Regions from separate parts of the Homo sapiens genome. Here region 1 is linked to region 2. The links come from fine-mapping of genetic effects on gene expression. Tissue or cell type: whole blood. Region 2 holds a variant in brackets; the other region holds the start of a gene. All regions are shown on one strand. Distances are from middle to middle.

What was found. PIP is the estimated chance that this variant, and not a neighbour inherited with it, causes the effect.
Region 1: it holds the start of EFNA5, and the variant in region 2 is fine-mapped to the expression of EFNA5 in whole blood (TOPMed, PIP 0.95).

Annotation. Positions count from the first base shown.
Region 1 is chr5:107,665,086-107,674,400 of GRCh38, forward strand. It overlaps EFNA5 (ephrin A5), which reads right to left and starts at 5,852. Exons shown (of 5, transcript NM_001962.3): 1 at 5,404-5,852. The coding sequence starts at 5,528. RefSeq lists enhancers at 5,005-5,084, 5,485-5,614, 6,325-6,464, 8,205-8,704, 8,606-8,655 and silencers at 5,245-5,314, 5,885-5,934, 7,295-7,364, 8,736-8,815.
Region 2 is chr5:107,479,917-107,490,552 of GRCh38, forward strand. All of the region lies in intron 1 of EFNA5 (ephrin A5), which reads right to left. Among named protein-coding and RNA genes, the nearest start is that of EFNA5, 190 kb to the right of the region's middle. The variant C/T (reference allele first, on the strand shown) is at 4,405.

The DNA of each region.
Region 1 (9,315 bases), 180 kb after region 2:
CATTTTTATTTTAATGCTTTCTCTCTCTCAAAGGTAAATTTTCTGGCATATACTTATCCCAAGCTAGCAAAGGCCAGAACTCCTGAAGGACTAATTGTATTCATTCATTTTCTTGGCCCAGCGTGAAGCTGGTAGCTTGCTTGGTTCATAGCAACAGGGGAGAAAAGGAGGCGCCCATCTTTATGTCCTTATCCAACAGGAAACCAGGCCAGTGGACAGAATGCAGTGAAATGCCTGTTCAGAAGGTATTCTGCAAGATTAAATGGCAAGAAATTCACAAGGTTAATTTGCACCCAAGTAACTAAGTGTTCCCTCCAAACCTGATCCTCAGCCTTCAAAGGTGGAAGCTTCTGAAGCTACTGTCAGCCACAACACACATGACAACAAGATATTAGTTCAGTGAGCTGATGGTTTAGTTATTACCACTAAAATCACCTAACAGAGAGTAATAAACTACTGAAGACTCTGATACTTTTAATCACTAGTAGTTTACTGACCTTGGTCTTACCCTGAAAATGCCAAATTAGACTGTATAGCCAAATCTGCCTCAAATAGCTCTAATGTTCCTATCATCTAAAAATCAGACAGTTGAGTATTTCTGATAGTTTATTGTGAATATATAAAATAATGAATCAAATAGGTAGAACATATCTTAGTAGCTAACTCTGCTTTTCAAAATTCTATGGAAAACTCACCAAAAAACAGGAATCATACTTCTCTTTTACAAATTTCTAGATTAAAAAGGGGGGAGGGTCAATTCACGTCTCTTATAAACATATAAGCATAAAAACATGGGTTATAAACCTCAATCATACTGCCTTATTTTTAGCCTGGTACTTGCATAAATTCTGATCTAAATTTCAGAGTAACAAAATTACTACCAATACATCTAATAATGTGATACGTTACACTGAGGCTTAAAGTTAATGCCTTTTACTTGAAAAACATTTATGTTTCTAACATACAAAATATTACTTAAAATATTTAAAATTTCAAAAGTAAGGACAATCTAAGTTTTGTGATGAAACTCATTCAAGACCAAGATAAACTTTCAATCTTTACTCACAACAAATTCTTAGATTTAAACCATGCTGATTTCATTTACTTGTCAGTGAAAAGGTCACAGTGCCGGCATACTGGTATACATATGTCAAAATGATGATGGCTCAGATTTTTTTTAAATGGAGCAACTAAATTTTGAAAGAAGAAAAATACTCAAGGGAATATGATTAGGAAAAAAAAAATGTTACTACTTCTCTCTTCTTAGCCACATACATTTGACCTGTACTGCCAGAGGACTTGGGAGTGTTGACCTAGAATTCACATTACTTTCACAACTCCAAGATTACGTGTTAACAAAACTAAAAGGTGTCAATTACCTGCTACTCTAATATGAAATGTTTAATATACAAGTCCCTACAAGAATTGAAAAAGTCCAAAGAAAACATGATTAGGTTAAAGTTTAGTAAATCCTTCATGACTTACACAGATATTTTCCTCTTAAGAGTATAACCTTTTAAATTGATGATACTCAAACCTTAACAGAAGCAAAGCACCAGGTTGAGGACGACTGGTATTCCTAAAAGTGTGTTGGTCATATTTGCTGCTGTATTATTTGACTATTGCATCAATAATGCCAACCAGTAGGAGATATGTTTAATTACCCTAATATCATTTCAGCAAATAGTCAAAATAATCCAAGAAGAACTTAGAATACGCACATGATGTTTAAAAGTATATTCTTATTAGAAGCACCAAACTGCTTATGGCATACTTCAGATGAAGAGGCATGTTCTTAGTATTATGACTCTCTTTATAAGCATAGCTACTAAAGGAGAATGTAAATAAACTTTTATTACTGGAAGTCTTTTTAACTTTATTTAAAAGCTTTTTACATTCTTAAAGAAATTAAGGACAAATAGTTATATTCTTCTTGATGTGGATTTTCATTACTCAAAGTTACTTGGTGACATTCCAGTTTAGAATTCAGAATAATATTAAAAGGATGATTTGATTATTTACACTTTTAGGTAAAACTTATACAAGTTTTCAAATTTTGGAAATATAGAAGATCTATTTAGGCAAATGTTATCATATATTTCTATTCAAACTGATAGTTCTGAGTGGCTATTTCACAAATTTGTGCCAATTCAACACATAAAAAAATCAGTTTGGTCCCCTATCCAATAAATACTACCAACTAAAAGTTATCAGCATTTGAAAACTCAGTATCCACTTCTCAGAAGTGAATACCTGGGTACATAGATTGTAACAGTAAAACTATTCTGACAGCAAATAAATTTAATATTTTTTCCCGTGAAACTACATCTATAGATGCTCATTTATCAATGGAGAGGCAGTAATGAAACTCCATGTAGAAGATAAACTCCTACCAGATACACAAGTGACACAAGTTACACAGTAAGATACTGTACTTAATCCCTGTGATCAAGATACATTTAATTCTGATTTTACCTAAACATAATTTCAAATTGAATCTGTTAGTATAAGCTAAAGTAGATTTACTTCGTTTAGACACAGTGTACATTATCATCAGTTTAACGTGCCCACTGAACATATTATATTCTGAGGGAAAAATAAAAAAAATTATTTAAGTTGCAATTAAAGTCCTCTATTCTTTTTTCAAAAGATTGAAGTCTTACTAGTTTAGCAAAATTTTAACAGATAGGTTCTATATAAAGACACAAAGCATGGCTAGCTTACTTTATGAAATAACATACAGGAAAAGGAATTGCACAACAGTGAATTTATAAAATTTACTAAACCCGTGGAAATTTTCTGAAATATTTTCTTACTATTGTTTGTGGAAAACTGTTAGTTTTTATTTTTAAAATACTTATTTGGCATGTGGCCTCTTATATCCAAGTTGACTTTTCTTAATGCATCAAAAGAGCAACATCTTATTCAACACTTCAGAGATAAAACTGCCTACTTTTAAAATATTGTTTTTAAAGTAAGTTTTTAACTGTGATAACATACCAAGATAAATGTGTCCATAAATTCCTAAGAATAATAAGTGTTAGGGCTGTATCTCTTGGGGTTAAGAGGGGTACATCATTCTTTCTTTTGGCCATTATCAAACTGATAATGATCAAATAGAAAGGTAATTCTACAAACCTGAAGTTAGAATACCGATTTAGAAATACTCTTGGTATTTTAAAATTCTGCAGATTAACTTTGTCTGGGCAGGTTCAAAGCCTCCATGGCATCCTGAGCAGAAGAGTTTTCTGCAGGCAGGGCAGATCTATTAAAAAACATGACCTGTGACAAAAATCAATGTGCTAATCTCAAACCAAACAACAGTATCAAAAGCACAAAACAGAGATAACCTAAGATAAAATGTCCTCAAACTAACTCAGACTAGCTTGACAGGTTAAGAAGGGGGGTTAAAGTAGGGGTGTTGCTGGTTCTTTCCGTTTTAACCCAGGAAGACTGGAACACCCAAGTATCCAAATAAATGAATGCCATGAGAAAAAGATCACAATGTGGAGCTTGGTGTGGGAAAGAAAAGACAACCGAGAGCAAGATATCCCAAATTCAAAGAAACTATTTCAGTGTTGCTTTATTTAATAAGGTGCTAAAGTTCAGAGATACAAATTTCTGCTTCGTATATGCTGCCTAATAAAGCACAAACGGGGAAAAAAAACTAACCAACATAATGAGACTGGCTTTTAACACCATCACAACTGGAAAGCTTGCTCTATTTGTCTTGTCAGCTTTAATAAAAGGCATCTCTCCTCTGGCAGGATGGCTTCTTTTTCTCTTTTCCTAATAGTGGTAAGTGGCATGTCAAAGAAGAAATCGCTTCCCATTCCACCACCCACCTCCAGGAGACTCTTGTTTTTTGAACCAAACTTTCAGGAATATCTCCACTCCTGTTCAGCGGTTCATTTAGGACTTGGGCGGCTACCTGAGTAAGACTATCTTGGACTAGCGGGATAGGGGGAACTCCCTCCTGGTTCTGTAACCGGCGGACTGCTTGTGGGGAAATCTTCCCATCTTCATCTGCGCTGACATTATTCAAGCAGGGAATCCCTCTCTTGCCTGCATGCTGAGGGGAGGCTGGAGGCAGGCGGAGAGGGCCCGCAGGAGATAGAAAAAACTGGAGGCGCCCACCGATACCCTCTCTCCTGGAGCCCGGGGCGCGCACCAACTCTTAGGCTAACCCCTCGGCCTCCCGCCTCTCTCTTCCCAACTTCCACTCCAGCCCAGTGAAAAACCTGTGACTTTAGATGCAATCGGTACTATTAATAAATAGCACCTAGGAGGGCACCGAGACCGGCACACAGCTGGAAGCTAGCCTCTGTCCCAGAGAAAGCAGTGCGGTATGGGCCTAGCGGGGCCGACTTCTGTGCACAGGCCGGGAAGCAATAAAGGTTCGGAACTGCTCCAGACCCGGAGGACCCCGCCGGGCACTCTGGATAACCTCCCCACTCCACTTCCAGGGTCCGAAAACACGGGACGTCTGCGACTGGCCGGTGTCCAGCACGCGCACTAGGACCGCCCCCGGCGCCCACCTCTAGTCTCCCGCATACCCGGCGGGCTTCGGGACGCCTACAAATCGGTTCCAGGTAATCGCGCGCGTTCCTCCGGCAGCACATCGCCAGGCCGCGGGCGAAGGGCTCCCACCTCCTGGCTCGGCCAACTCTGGCAGCTTGTTCTGCACACATGACGTAACCCGGCATTAGATCAAACTTTCTGGCACCTTGAACCCACTGGGGTGGGTGGAGGGATGGAGAAGATGGGAGAATCCTCTCCACTGCCAGGCGCGCCGGGCCCAGACTGACTCAGGGGCCGAATGATTTCCTCGCAGTTGAAGAGGAAAATAAAAACCTAAAGCTTCCGCTTCCCAGCCCCCCTCACTTCCCCCAGCCCGTGCGCTCTCTCTGCGCGCACCGGGAAAAGAGAAGGGAAAATTAAAATTAAAAAAAAAAAAAAAAAAAAAAAAACTTTGGGGGATGTTTGGCGGGTTCTCTCCGCAGTCCCTGCGGACCCACGCTCCAGGAAGGAGCTCCCGGCTGCGCACACTGGGGGCTCCCCGCGCCGGGAACCGGATGCCAGCCAGATGCCGGGGCTGGGAAGCAGAGAAGTCCCTACTCCCCGGCTCCCGCCCTTTTCCGAGTCTCCCGGCGCCCCGCAGAAGCAGTTGGTCTAGGCAGCCCCGGGGACTCCCAGGGGTACCTGGCCTTTCCGCGGCGGCTTAACAAAGAGGGGCGCGACGCGAGCGCTTCCCGCCGACGCCTCAAGCCATCAGCGCCCGGGCGACGCAGGCTCCGAGGGTGCGCGCCGCCAGCGGTTGGTGCGCGCCGATCCCCGCCGCCGCTCCTTCCGCAGGGCCCCGAGGCCCGGGTAGCCCTGGCTCTCCGCCTGTTATCGGCTTACCTGGGGTTGCTGCTGTTCCAGTAGACAGCGTAGCGGTCGGCGACGGCCTTGGAGCCCGGGTCCTGGCTGAACACACACATCCAGAGCACCAGAAACACCAGCGTCAACATCTCCACGTGCAACATCACGCCTGGCCAGCGGCGGAGCCCCCGACGCGCCACTCCGGGGAGAGAGCGGGGATCCGGAGGGAGGGAGGCAGGCAAAGGGACAGAGAGAGAGCGGGCGCCAAATAAATATGAATAAATAAAAATGAAAGTGGGCGAGAAAGGAAAGAGGCGCCCACCAAGCTGGGGAGGGGTAGGAGAGCGAGAAGAAAAGAAGGCGGTGGGATGGGGGGTGATAAAGACAAACTCGCACCCCCACTGGAGGGTTCAGGAGGAAAAAGGAATCACAAGATGGAGAGAAGCGTGCGTGTGTGTGGTGGCGGCGGCGAGGGCGGGGGAAGAGGTGCCAAGCTGTGTCTCGGGCGGCGGCGGCAGGCCGGTCACCCCGGGAGAGGGAGGTGCGCGCCGGGCCGGGCGGCTGCAGCGCGGGTCGGGGCAGGCGGCGGCGCGCGCTGCACAGTCACCGGGAGTTGCGCGCCGCAGCCGCGGGGAGACATACACCGGCCCGCCGGGCCCGGCTCAGCGTCGGCGCAGCAGGCTACGCACGGCTCCGCCACCGCCCGGGGCCCTCGCACTGCGCCACGCTTCGCTCCAAGTTACTTTGGCGGCCGGTGGGAAACTGCAGGAGAAGGGCGACGTGCTGATAGAGGGCTTCGCGCTTGTGGTCCCGGGAGTCTGAGAACCCCTTTCCTCAGCCTCCTCTGTGCCTTAGCGGGGCGACCCCCAGAAATCTCAGAGGAGTCGTAAGTGCTGCGGTACCGGGCGGTGCGCCGAGAAGGGTGGGGATCCGGAGCCGCAACCCAGCCTTGTCGGTGTCCTGGAACTGGTTAAGCGGCAGCTGCGCCGGCTTTCGAAGCGGTCTTGCCTCGAAAACCTCAAAGAAAAGTTTGGCTCTTCGCGTCTTCCGGCAGGTCCCCCAGCAGAGTCGGAACGCGGCGGTAGCGGAAGAGGGCACCCCGGGGGCTGGCCGAGCCTCGGGGATTTCTCGCGCGTGCTTTCCTTGGCTGGGTGTGGGTGCACCACAGTGAATGAAGAGCAGAGGTTAAGACCAGCCGGCCTGGCAGAGCTGGGATTCCTAAACCTGCAAGACGACGCCAACCCAACTGTTCGGCTGGAGAGCGGGAGGGGAAACAATCACTTTCAAATGGATCCCTCCAACTCCTGGATGGGCCGATGTCAGTCTCCGATCGCCTTCCGAGAGGGAGACTGAGCCCCCACACGCGGTGCCAAGAGCCCGGGGTGAGCTCTCAGAAGTGTCCCTGCGACTCCAGCGGGTCCAAGCCTAGCAACTTGTAGAGATGCATCAATCAGTTTGAAATGGGAAAAGAGGAAAAAAAAAAAGCGCACGAGCGAGTGGCACCTCCCCGATGACTACATCAGAAAACCTTCCCGATCCTCCCGCAGCTGCTCCTCTTTCCCTCCTTAGGCACAGCAGCAACAGAGGTGAAAACCACAAACCGAATCCTAAAACCCCTACCCAGGCGGGAAAATAAATAAACTTGAGTGCAGCAGCAGCAGCACGAGCAGCCCAGGAGGAATTGAAACGACTGGCAAGAAGTGGAAAGGGTTTTGTAAAAGTCAGTTTTGCAAAAGAGGGGGAAAAAAAGAGAGCGAGAGAAAAAATGCTTTATGGGAAAAAAAATCTCCTCGGGCACGCCCCCTCGTTAATGACTTGCGTGGAAAGCCGACAGCGGCGGCGACCCAGTGGCAGCAGCCTCAGCAGAGCGCGAGGCCGCACGCGTGAACGTGGACGTGGGCGGGGGGATGGGGCTCCGCCCGGGCGTGTTGCGCGGGACGCGGGACGGGCGGGCGGCGCGAGCGCGGGTGTGAGCTCCGGACGAAGCAGGGGGAGGTGCCGCCAGCCCGCGCCCAGCCAGCGCTGCTGCCGCTGCGGCCCGGGTCATGTGGACTGTCTTTTTTTTTTTTTTTTTTTTTTTCCTCCTTCCAAGCAGTTTACTTGGGAAGGGTGGGAGCGCGGTGGGGGGATAGCTGGAGCAACCAGTCAGGGAACGGCCTACTGTTTGCTTACAGATTGGGGGTTTTTCCTCTCTCTTTACTCCAACCGGATTGGTTTGCTCCACGAGAAAGAGGCGTTTTCCTAATCTCCCTTCCCCACGCCTCCTACCCCCTCCCCCGCCCCACCTTCTAGAAACCTGACTAATTGAATTACTGGGAGTGCCGAGGCGCCCTCTCCTGCGCCGGAGCCCGGCAGCCACGTGTAACCCTTTGGGTGCTGAATTCCGTCTGGGCTAAGGAATGATTTGACATCTTTTTACCTGGGAGTAGGGTCTTTCGATTTTAAAGGAACCTGTGCCCACCCTTTGGCTGGAGAGCCGGCATCTGTCTCTGGTGCCCCGCAGGTGACGGATGGGCTGGAACGGAGCCTCAGGGAGTGCGCGTTCCTGTCCATTCCACCCGCTCTCCACGCCGCACGCTGCCTGGCGCTGGGTTATCTGGAAGTCTGAGCACCCCTCCTGTGCCTTTCAGCCCTCCTCTTCCCACTTGGGATTTAAAGATTCTTGGGCAGGAAGCAAGTTTTCTTTAAAGTGATGCTCTGAAAACACGTTTTTAAAAATCAGGCAAATCACAGTTTAAAGTGATTACAATTCAGCGCGAACCTTCCACAGAGAGGAAATGAATGCGGCAGACGAGCCCTTCAGAAATAACCTCACACCTCTTCCATTTCAACCTTGAGGGTGATTTGCTGCCCACTCCCCAAAGAATAAACGCCTTTATCGAACCCGGTGCGGAAAGAAATGAGGGCCGGGGGCGGGGGCTGTGGGAAGAAAAGCAGTTCCTTTATTGTTGGAAAAGGCCCCTCGGTCCTGGACTTCAAGGGCAGGTTGCAAGCCTGGTCTTCAGCCGCCACTGAAGAGCGATCTCCTGGCAGCGAGACTGTCCCAGCGCCTCGGGACGCGTCCCCACTGTCGTCCAGCGCCCAGGAAGTGAGCCCGACGCCTGCTCTGCGGGGCCACAGGCCCCCGAGACCCGCCCTTAAGGGGTCCGCGGGCTCGGGAGCAGCGGTATTTTTTCTCATGTTCCCTAGGGAGTTTTCTGCCTTAGTGGGAAGGGCAGATCCCCAGGAGAAAAAAGGCAGTTTACTTTTGCTCCCACACCTGCCTGCACTCCTTTTTACTTATTAGCCCAATAAAATCAAATCTCACGTTCACCCTCCTGCGCTTTCCAGTCCTCAGACGGGATTTCCAGGCGCTTCAGAGCTGTTTAGAAGCGTCCAGACGCCCTCCAGTGGTGGGCCTGCAATCCGCACCCAGCAGGGGCATTGCCTGCCGCTCAGGCCGGGTTGAATTTGATGGGAAATCTAGGGCTATGACCAATAAAGACTCGAGAGGAAAAGAAACAGTTCATAGGGGCACGGAGGTACCTGGATGTTATGGGCTCTTGGCTAAAAGTTAAGTCGTTTTTCAATTACAGTAATATTTCCTATCTGAAAAGATCCTGAAATCGTCCTAGGAAAGTAACTTATATTTTGTGACTAGATACAAATTGCAATCTGTACAATAATGGACTTTACCACAAACCAACCATCTGCCTAATTATTAAAAATTGAAATTCAGAATGTCGACACAAATGCTCCTCCATCATCTGTATGTTTCACAAAGTTCCAGCAGTGAGAAAGAAGTGGGGAAAGAAGTGAGAGAACCAATGGATAAGCTTTTATTTTTCAAATCAAATTTTCAGTTAAAATGTTATTTGCTTTTTTCCCTGGTCTGTAATCTTGCTGATGTTCAAGTTCTTGGCCCATTTTAGGGTGTGTGTTTTTTCTGTTGCAGGAAAGATGGATTTGTTT
Region 2 (10,636 bases):
AAAAACTAAAAAAGGAAAGAAGATTCTGAGTACAATACTCGTACTCTCCGAAATTACCCTTTTTCAAAAAGAAAGATTAAATACCAAAACTCAATTGAAATCATACTGATTTAATTCTACAATGTGATGTCTAAAACCTCTAAGTACCTGCTTATATAAGTAAAAACAAGTCATGAGAAAATAAGAATAATACATATTTCCATGTCCCAAGTGCCCCACCAATATGCTTCATATTCACAAAGCTCTAGTTAAAATGGGAAAAGCCAACAGATTACTATTTTAATATGAATGCTTAATGAAATATATACTAATACTCACATTCAATTTTTCCATAAATCAATGTATTGCTAAAACAGTATACACTTTTATCCACTCAATAGTCATTACTTTTATTTAAAATTAAATTCAACTGTATTTTGTATCTACCTACAACTTCTTGCCCTGTGAAGGGGTACAAAGATGTATCAAAGATGCTCTCTGCTTCTAAGAAATTGTTTATTAACTGGCACAAGAAATAGCATCAACTATAATATCTGGTAGAGTGTAAAAAAGGGTAGAGTTCAAGTTCCTAAAAATGTTAATGCGCCAGGCTATACGTAAAGCGCTGGCCTAGGCACTATATGGATCAAGACTAAAGACACAGGCACTGTCCTCAGGAGCATTCTAGTGGAGAGGGGAGGTATCCAATACACCAATTACGTGAATACCTGGCTTCCTTTCTTAAGTGTATAAAAAGCAAATAAAGCCTTAAAGACTGCTTCACAGAGCTCTCCATGAGCAGGGCTGGGGATACACAGAAGCCAGGGAAAACAGATACAAGACTCTTGCAGTCAGCGGTCCCAGAAAGACAAAATGAGGGCTTGTCCAAAGGCCTTGTACTGGGAGTGAAGGCAAGTGGAAGGAACGAGCAATGGGGACAAACAGGTCTCAAAGGGTGGGTGACTGCCTAGAAATGAGCAGAAGGAGAACTTGGAAATAACAGGTCTGAACAAAGAGACAGCTTTATATGACAGAATAAATAAGAAGTATGTTAGGTAGACAAGAGAAATAGATGTGGTCACTGACTTGTGGAGCCTGAGGAGCTGGCAGGGGACATTCAGCATAAATTTACTGAGCTCCTATTACATAGCAGGCACTGTTCTAGGATCCAGAGGTACAAGAGTGAACAAAACAAACTAAGAGGTGTGCAGCAAGCAACAGGGTAAAGTTAGACTCTCCTGCTGACAGGCAAAAGCCAGAAATACAGACTGAGAAGTGTCAACTGCAAATGAGAAAAACCCTCGGTTCTCCTGTATTCAGGAGAGTTTCAAGAAGAGAGAAGAGAGGCTACAACACTGAATACAGGAGTGAGTTGGGGAAACAATCTGGCTGGATGAGAACTGAACTTAACCGATTTGACATTTCTGTGACTGTTGAGATGGCCTTCTCCATCGCACTGGGCCAGGATCCAGCAGGAGGAGATCACAGCAAGTGTGCCTTTGAGAAGTTTGTTATTAAAATGAAATAAAGGATGGTATTTTGATACATAGTTCTCTGAGAATACAGAGAAAGTAGTGATTCATTCTGACCAGGAGATCTGGGAATGCTGATGGTTGGCAGTGAGGATGTCCTCTGTTTTTGAACAATAAATGCAGGAAAAGAAACTGAAAAGAATGCCAGGTATGGTGGCTCATGCCTGTAATCCCAGCACTTTCGGAGGCCAAGGTGGGTGGATCACAAGGTCAGAGTTAGAGACCAGCCTGGCCAACATGGTGAAACCGTGTCTCTGCTAAAGATAACACAAATTAGTTGGGTGTGGTGGCACACACCTGTAATCCCTGCTACTCAGGATGCTGAAGTAGGAGAATCACTTGAACCCGGGAGGCAGAGGTTGCAGTGAGCTGAGATCACCCCATTGCACTGCAGCCTGGGTGGTAGAGCGAGACTCCATCTCAAAAAAAAAAAAAAGAAAAGAAATGGAAAAGGGATGATAGAGAGTCAGGGTTACAATAAGGTCTCATTACAATACAGCTTTAAACATTAGAAAACAAACACTGTCTTGTGTAATCATACACTTCTAAGTTAGACATATTTCTGAACAAGATAAAATGTGCTACATAAAAATAAATGCTGGCTGGGCGTAGTGGCTCATGCCTATAATCCCAGCACTTTGGGATGCTGAGGCAGGTGGATCACTTGAGGTCAGGAGTTTAAGACCAGCCTGGGCAACATAGGGAAACCCTTACTAAAAATACAAAAAATTAGCCAGGTGTGGTAGCATGCGCCTGTGGTCCCAGTTATTGGAGAGGTTGAGGTGGGAAAATCACTTAAGCCTGGGAGACAGAGGTTGCAGTGAGCCGAGGTCGTGCCACTGTACTCCAGCCTGGGTGACAAAATGAGTTGATCTTGTCTCAAAAAAAAAAAAAATGCTATTTTTGTTTAAATTAGGCAAATATACTTATCTGTTATTTAAGACTAAAAACCTGATTTCTTGGTCCTCCATCTAGAAAATAGTCTGTTTTAAGACAAGGAAATAGTTCTTGTTTAAACTAGAGAATGAGAAGTCTGTCAGACACATGGCCCCACTCTTGCTCCAAGTCCTTCTCACCTATTCTCAGATAAGACCCAGATCTTGGGAAACAAATTAAGGGCGCATCTGCTGGATTGGACCTAGCTGCACTGGGAGTTGCCAGAGTGCTCTGAGCAGCATCAGGAATTCCTCTGGGCCTTGTCGTGATATCATTTGCGCAATGTAGCCTGTGATGGCAGAAAATTAAGCTGGTATTTATACAGGGTATTAGAGAAGGACCCTCCCTGCACCAGGCTTAAAGTGACAAAATGTCAGCCTCAATCATCCCACAGGCTTTGGTCTCCCTCTGTAACCTCTTTCTTTTTGGCTGCTCTCTCTCTCTCTCTCTGTCTCTCTCTCTGTCTCTGTCTCTCTCTCTCTCTCTCTCTCTCTCTCTCTCTCTCTCTATATATATATATATATATATATACATACATATATACACATACACACACACACACATACATATGACACTAACAGAAAAATAAATTGAAAAGAGCACTGAGGCAGAGTGTATTTCACGCACTGGTGCCAATGTTTCATATCTCATGAACCTCGGGAAAACAATTCGTAGAACTAATTAGTTTACAGTGTTTAAGCAGCTTGTTCCTCGTCTTTAATCTTCTTTATGTAATAGTGTGAACAAAGCCATATTATCTTCTGATTTTTTTATACAGTTTAACAAATATAATCTCCCTTTTCTTTCCAGAGATTACTTCATTTAGACATCAAACTATGTTGTTGTTGTTTTTTTCCCCTGGGGAGAGGGGATATAAATAAATTGACATCTATTCACATAGGTCTCAATGGTCTACCAGATCCACCCAGGCCCTAATCCTCTTTGTTGTCATGGAATCCACCTGGCTTAATTATATTTACAGTTTTCAACGACACCACATGGCATGCAGGTTTTCCCTGAACTCTGCACATCTTCCCGAATCCTAGCTATAAGTCACACTCCAGCTGCTGTATCCGTCTCGGATTCTAGACGGTGACAAGGCACTCTTGCCTGAAACTCAGCATCAGGTCCTCAAAGAATAGAGCCTGGATAAATCTCCCCTCCAGTATTTTTATAGCCTACTAAAAGAACATGATTTAAGAGAACTCCTGACCTAAAGCCAGGGGATGGGAAATAGATACATATGTGTACAAATTAGTTGGGTGGTCAGGGGAGCAAAGAAGAACAAGATACTTAACTTACAAAAGTTTTATCTTAAAATACTGCTCACAAGTATGACTTTTAAGAGAAATTGAACTTTTTGTGCTTTCTGATTCTAGATAAATATTTAGTTGCTAAGCTGCTGGAATGCTATGAGATACATTTTGGGTAGAGTCAAACTGAAATCCAAGAACTGGGTAAGGCTAGTGTTGAAGTAATTATTATTCATCTGGTGGGTGATGCTGCACACAAATAACTACTTGCACTGCTAAGGATTTGGAGCAGAGTTACTCCCTGAGAGAGACACTTTTCAGGTGGCAGAAACCTACCTCAGACTTTTATTTATACACTGGAATCCACATTATTAAAGAATTTTACAGTCTTGGAAAAACACAGGACTTGGTGCAAACTTTCATTTTGCTTGCCTGAGAACTGTGTACTGTCCCATGGTACCCATCTGCCTTAAAGTTCACTCTGTCCTTAATTGTCAAACAGATTCATGGTAACTCCTAATTAGTGCAAAACAGGTAACACAGCTGCGACTCTGCAACTGCTGAACACCTTTAGCATCTATATCAAGCTAAGCTCAGGAGCCCTCTCTGCTCTCTCCCAAGGTTAATGGTTTCGAGTCTTCTGAGAATTATGGAGTAGGTGCCCACAGTGAGAGAGGGCGCCTGGTTCTCCAAGCCGCTGTTCC[C/T]ACTACTAATAGAGTCAGCATAAGAAGCAGCCAGTTTCCAGCAACGGTAACAATGGAGAAATTTCTCTTACTGCACAGCTGCCAAATAACTTTGAGGATCTGATTCAGAACTAACATGGAAGATTTAAATGGATCCATTGCAACAGACGTTTTGCATGTTGGCACACTGGAATTAGAGGAACTAATCAGAGCCAGAGTGGTACCAGATGGTCTCTTGAGAATTCTTCTGAGTTTAAGATATGTGAGCCAATGAGACAAACTGTATAATTGCCCAAGATTTTACTCTAAGAGCACTGGCACTGGGAGTAAGACCACTAGGAAACTCAGCTCTGCCACTTTCCAGCTGTAGGACTTCAGGCAAATTAATTAAATAGGATGGTGGTGAAGAATTAAGTGAGATACTGTATCTAACACTCAGGGTACCTAGGTAGAGCACAGGGAAGATGAGGAGCTGTTAACTGTGATAGTTATGATTTTGTATTTTTTTTTTTTAGATTTCTGAGTTGAGGAATATTTGCAAGCAGGTACAGTAATTACCCAATTCAGATGTTTATAGAAAAAGAAACACATCTTAAAAATAAAGGTACCACAAAAAACAAGAAGTAGAAAATTGGAAGATGGAGAGATGAAAGAAAAATGAAGAAATTTCAGAGAAAAATGAAAAAACAAAGCAGATTTTAAAAAGAAAAAGAAAAAAAGGTAGGAAATACAAATTAAGAAATTTCAGAGAAAAATGAAAAAACAAAGCAGATTTTTTTAAAAAAAGAAAAAAGGTAGGAAATACAAATCTAAGAGGAGGGTTTGAATTCCTAATCCTGTTCTTTTTCCTTGCACTTCTATTCAAATCCCTTTTCTGCATCTCAACTTTTGTCTGCACTAGATGGTCCAATTCTAGCCAGACTTCAACTTGTAGCAGTCCCAAGGTAGAAATGACTAGAAAAAAGAAAGTTCCCTCTTAGCTATGAAGAATGAAAAACATTAAAATGCAAATTCAATGTAAAAAAGAAAGCAAGACTATACACACATTTCACAGTAGCAAATTCTCAGGCAGAAGTGGAAGCCAGCAAGTAACCCCCTGAGGTGTGCTAGTGTAACTGTTTCAAGTTTTGGGGATGACAGATAAACAGCAAGTCCTATTACTACTGAATGAATCTCTCTCTCTCTCTCTTTTTTTCTCTGGGAAGAAAATGTTTGTGATAGAATTGGTCCTTGAGAAAGAGTGAATTGATCTGTTAGCTTTCTGTGCTGGACCAGAAATAATTATTGCCATACCTACTTCCTATGGATTATGTTCAAAAGTTAGAGATACTCACTTATTCTGTCTTTATGCTATGGGGAACTAATCGGAACTGGGGTTTGCTTCACTGACTCTCACTTATTTTAAAAGTCAGGCTTAGTAGGAAAGAAAAAGTCAAAGAGATTGACCAAGAAAGGATGAAATGTTCGGTCTAGGTAAACAAACACTGTCTCAGATAAAGTTCTCCACGGGTCTCGACCTCACCTTCTACTGCGTATGAATTCATTTTACAATGTTCGTTTTTTTTAAGCTAGATCTTTGTGTGCTTATTTTCAACAGGGGATGACAATTGATTTGTTTTCTATTGAACCTCGCCAACTGGATACTGAAGCGAGCACGGCATATTTAGATGCCCTTAAACTTTCAGGTTCACCTTTAAAACGTGCCAAGACAATGTCATGTTGAGGGTAAATGTGCAATTTTCACTAGGCTGAGACGAGAAATGAGTGTCTCGCAGGTGAAATGACATTAAAGGCGTTACAGTAAAACAGAGACCAATCCTTATTGATTCATTTTAACTCAAATAAAATTCCAATAATTTGATGGACATGAAATAGCAAACAAAGGAAAAAACAAATCAGATGATTCCTGAGTGTGTGTGAAAGAGCACCCAGGCCCTGCTAGAAAAAAGCCACACTGCCAAATTCAACCCTATGTATATTCACAGGCACTTATTTAGCCTACCGGCTTCTCCTTCAGGAGTAGGACTGGTAAGGAACTTTAAAAGCTAAAAGATATGGAAGATACAACCTAATCAGGTTCAGGTAGCTAGAGAAACAAGACACACCCATAAGAAAGAACTTATGATGATAATTCTAAAAAAAAATGCATAACTACATAGTGGAGAGTGGTTCGGGTAACTTATGGAAATCCTGAGGCTATAAAAGATAAAAGAAAGACATCAGTTTATAGAGTTCACCCATATCTAACTTTCTTCTCCTTCTGGGCGTATGAGAGTATTATACCTCTCTACTACCTTAGAGTTAGGCAGAGTTGTGGGCGGAAGGAACATGAGTCACTTTTGGGCTGAAGCAAGACTCTTCAGTGTTCTCTTATGTGGTGGTTTGTGTTGAGATGACAAAACCACAAGACTGAAGAGGCCTCTATCATTGAGTCACACACAGATAATAGTTACCTGCCTTAATAAACTCTGTCAAACCCCTGAGATCCTGGGGCTGTTTGTTACTGCAGCACAATATATTCTGTCCTGACAAATATAGATACCAAGGCAGGGAGGAGCTAGAGAAAGTTACTATGAAAAGAATTTTAGGGTCTCCTCAGTGTATTTATACTTTAGTTTCCTTCCCCCTTTGGCTGACCTGTCTGCCTCCAATATCTCTCAAATACTCCACATTGCTGCTAGAGCATTCTAAGACCTACATCTGTTCACATCTCTGTTTGAACTTCAAATGGAATCGCCTGGCACAAAAGATAAAGAACAACTTCCTTAGCATAGGGTCAAGGCCCATGGTATCTGGCTCTGTTTCCCAATGTTATTTTTGCCCACTAGTTCCCATCCTGTATTCCTGCCGTCAGCACTCTGATTGAGCCACATTCTGCTCTGCCTCCATGAACTGGGACACACTGCTGTGCCTGTAATGGCCCCCACTCCCTCTTCCCCCCGGGTGAACACCTAACCAACTTCTGGCAGGATTCACTTCCTCTGTGAGGCCTTCAGCTCCTCTCTCCTCCCTCAGCACTTTGTGCATTCTGTTACAAAACACTGTTCCTTAAAAACTTTGTTTAATCCCCTTCCAATGGATAGTGAGTTGCTCAAGGCAGTGAGTGATTCACTTTTGTTTCCCCCAGAGCATCTAGCACAGTATCTGACAAGCAGTTAGTATTTGCAGAAATAATGAATGAATAAAGGAAAGAAGGAATATCTGCATGGCTGTGTCCATGAGAGTATTAGGCAGATGACAGGGGCAGAGTAGAGGTTTGTTGGATAGAAGTAAAATGTAAATGTAAGCAGCCAGCAGGTGTCAAATTACAAAGAATGAGAATTTTTCACTTGATCCAAAAGGTAATAGGGAATCATGATAACTTCATGAGCAGCAAAATGATAATTTTGTTCAGCCCTGTAGCACCTTGTGCCTTGAATGTCAGCTATGTTTATGCCAATCTTATTCCCCCTTGGACTGTAAAGCTCCTTGAAAACAGGGTTTGTGTCCTAATCATATTTGTATCCCCTATAGCAACAAGCACAGTGTTTGTATAACAGGTGCCAACAAATATTTGCTGAATTTAATTTTACAAAGATTACTCCCTATGCGATGAGGCTGGATAGACCAGCTAGCAGACTACTGTATTATATCCAACATTACATGGGAAATGGACTTAAAGGGGAGTATTGCCTATGGAAATGTGAAAATAGAAATCTAAGATGGTCTAATATTCCAGTCAGCAGCCTTTAGGGTCTCTAATATCAATTAATGTTTTGAGCCTGGGGTCCCAGAAAAATGGTGGTCTATTTAAAACACAAATGTTGAGAGGAAGATTTGCTTTTCTCAGGGAGTACATGAGTCCCATGTGGGAGATAACAAAAGAAAATATACTAGAGCTAAAAGCAGCTAGAAATACTAACCGCTGTATACAAATGTTATCTTATCCCCCATCTTGCGGCTTAGTTCAATTTTTTTATTGATTGATTGATTCATTCACTCACTCATTGGTTTTATTTTTGTAAATTTCTTACATTGTATAAAGTAATGTTTCTGAAGTTTATTCAAGTCTATTTAGATTATTGTCTGTTTCACATTAATCCCCAAAGTCAAAGACGGTGAGTGAAGTAAAGAAATGATGTGCTAGACTCTTCTGCTTTGGGTTTCCCAGATATCTCTAGTTATTCTCTATCAGAAAGGGTTTGCAGGGGCTTCCTCTTGTTGAAGTACCCTTTTTAAAACTCCAGCTGTCAGCAGGGAATCCTACAAGCATCAAATTATTTTACAAATCCCAAGTTTAAAAGAGCACTCCATTCAGAAGCTATACCTGGTTTTATTATGACTCACTTCTTAAGAAGACACACACACACAACTAGTGAGCCCTTAAAAGAAACATTAAGACCGAAAAACAAAAAAACTCTTTTTTTTTCCAAGACAGCGTCTTGCTCTGTCGCCCAGGCTACAGTGCAATGGCACGATCTCAAATCACTGCAACCTCTGCCTCCTGGGTTGAAGCGAGTCTCCCGCCTCAGCCTCCCAAGTAGCTGGGATTACAGGCGAGTGCCACGACGCCTGGCTAATTTTTTGTATTTTTTAGTAGAGATGGGTTTTCACCTGTTGGGCAGGCTGGTCTTGAACTCCTGACCTCACGATCCGCCTGCCTTCACCTCCCAAAGTGCTAGGATTACAGGCATGAGCCACTGCGCCCGGCCACAAAAAAACCTCTTTTAAGATACTGTCCAAAGCCTGTACCTGAGGGATTCAGTGTTATACCTCCCAAAATAAAATATGGATTTAAAATTCAAGGTATATATAATAGGTTATCAATAAGTTAACTATTACCATCATTACAATATTTCATTTAATCTATTGCAAACTCATGTATTGGACCAGACAAAATTTGTTTGTTTATTTAGATGGAGTCTTGCTCTGTCACCCAGGCTGGAATGCAGTAGGGCAATCTTGGCTCACTGCAACCGCCGCCTTCCAGGTTCAAGCATTTCTCCTGCCCCAGCCTCTCTAGTAGCTGGGATTACAGGCACGTGCCACCATGTCTGGCTAATTATTGTATTTTTAGTAGAGACAGGGTTTTACCAAGACCAGGCTGGTCTCAAAATCCTGACCTCAGGTGATCTGCCTGCCCTGGCCTCCCAAAGTGCTGGGATTACAGGCATGAACCACCGTGCCCGTCCTGGACCAGATAAAATTTAAACCAAACTTAACAGATTAAAATTTTCTGTGGGTTAATGTTAAAATCATACCTAAAAAAGTTTTAGTCCAATGTGAACCTAAGTTCACATTCTAAAAGGTACCTGGAACCTCAGGTGCCTTCACTGGACCCTAAAGCTTCCAAGCATTTTGTGATTGATTTGACCCCACCTACCCCCCCCACCAAGATCTAACACTAATGTTTCATTCCTGCAACTGAACATTATCAGTTTTTCATATCATTTATTTGTGGCAAAATGAGAAAACATATCCATAGCAAGGACTATGTACAGGAAAGTTCTCTGAGTGGCCTTGCACTGACTCAGTTATGCTCTTTCTTGCTTGTAGCTCTCAAGAATAACTGTACCAGTGTGCTAGGAATGCAACATCCTGAGATAAGAGGGGACCTGGCTGAAACAGCTGGACTTAGTTCCAATGTCCCCAGAACAGGATGTCCTTCAACACTTTAGCCCAGAAGATCTCATGACTCAGGGTATAAAACCCAGGGTGGGTGGATCTCCAGGGTCCCTCAGCTGGGGTACAAGTGGGGCATGCAGGGACAAGATTCCATCTTTCCTTGGCAGCTTGCTTGAACCATGGGGGACCAGCTAGCTAGCAATTAATTCTAGGATTATGTTATTCCTTGATGCCTATCTATAGATAATAAACCCGCTTTGTATAACTTGTGTGCTTGGGTGTTCTGTCTCACTAGACTCAGAGAAGTTGGTAACCAGTGCATAGTGAACTTGCTTCACACTATGTCATTTATTTGTTTATTTATTTATGTATTTTAGTGACCTGATCTTCCTATGGTGCCCAGGTTAGACTCCAACTCCCTAGCTCATGGGATCCTCCTGCCTCCACCTCCCAAGTAGCTGAGACTACAGGTGCACGTTACCATGCCCAGCTATTGCTTTTAACACATCCCACCCATGCTTTCAGTTAAACAATTATTCTATCTCCCTGAATTGCGTGACATTTTCCAAAAAAAGAATCATCAAATGAATCCTTTCAAAAGAAATCAAGCATCTCTTGCATCCTCACCCTGCAGCATTAAGATGCAGGC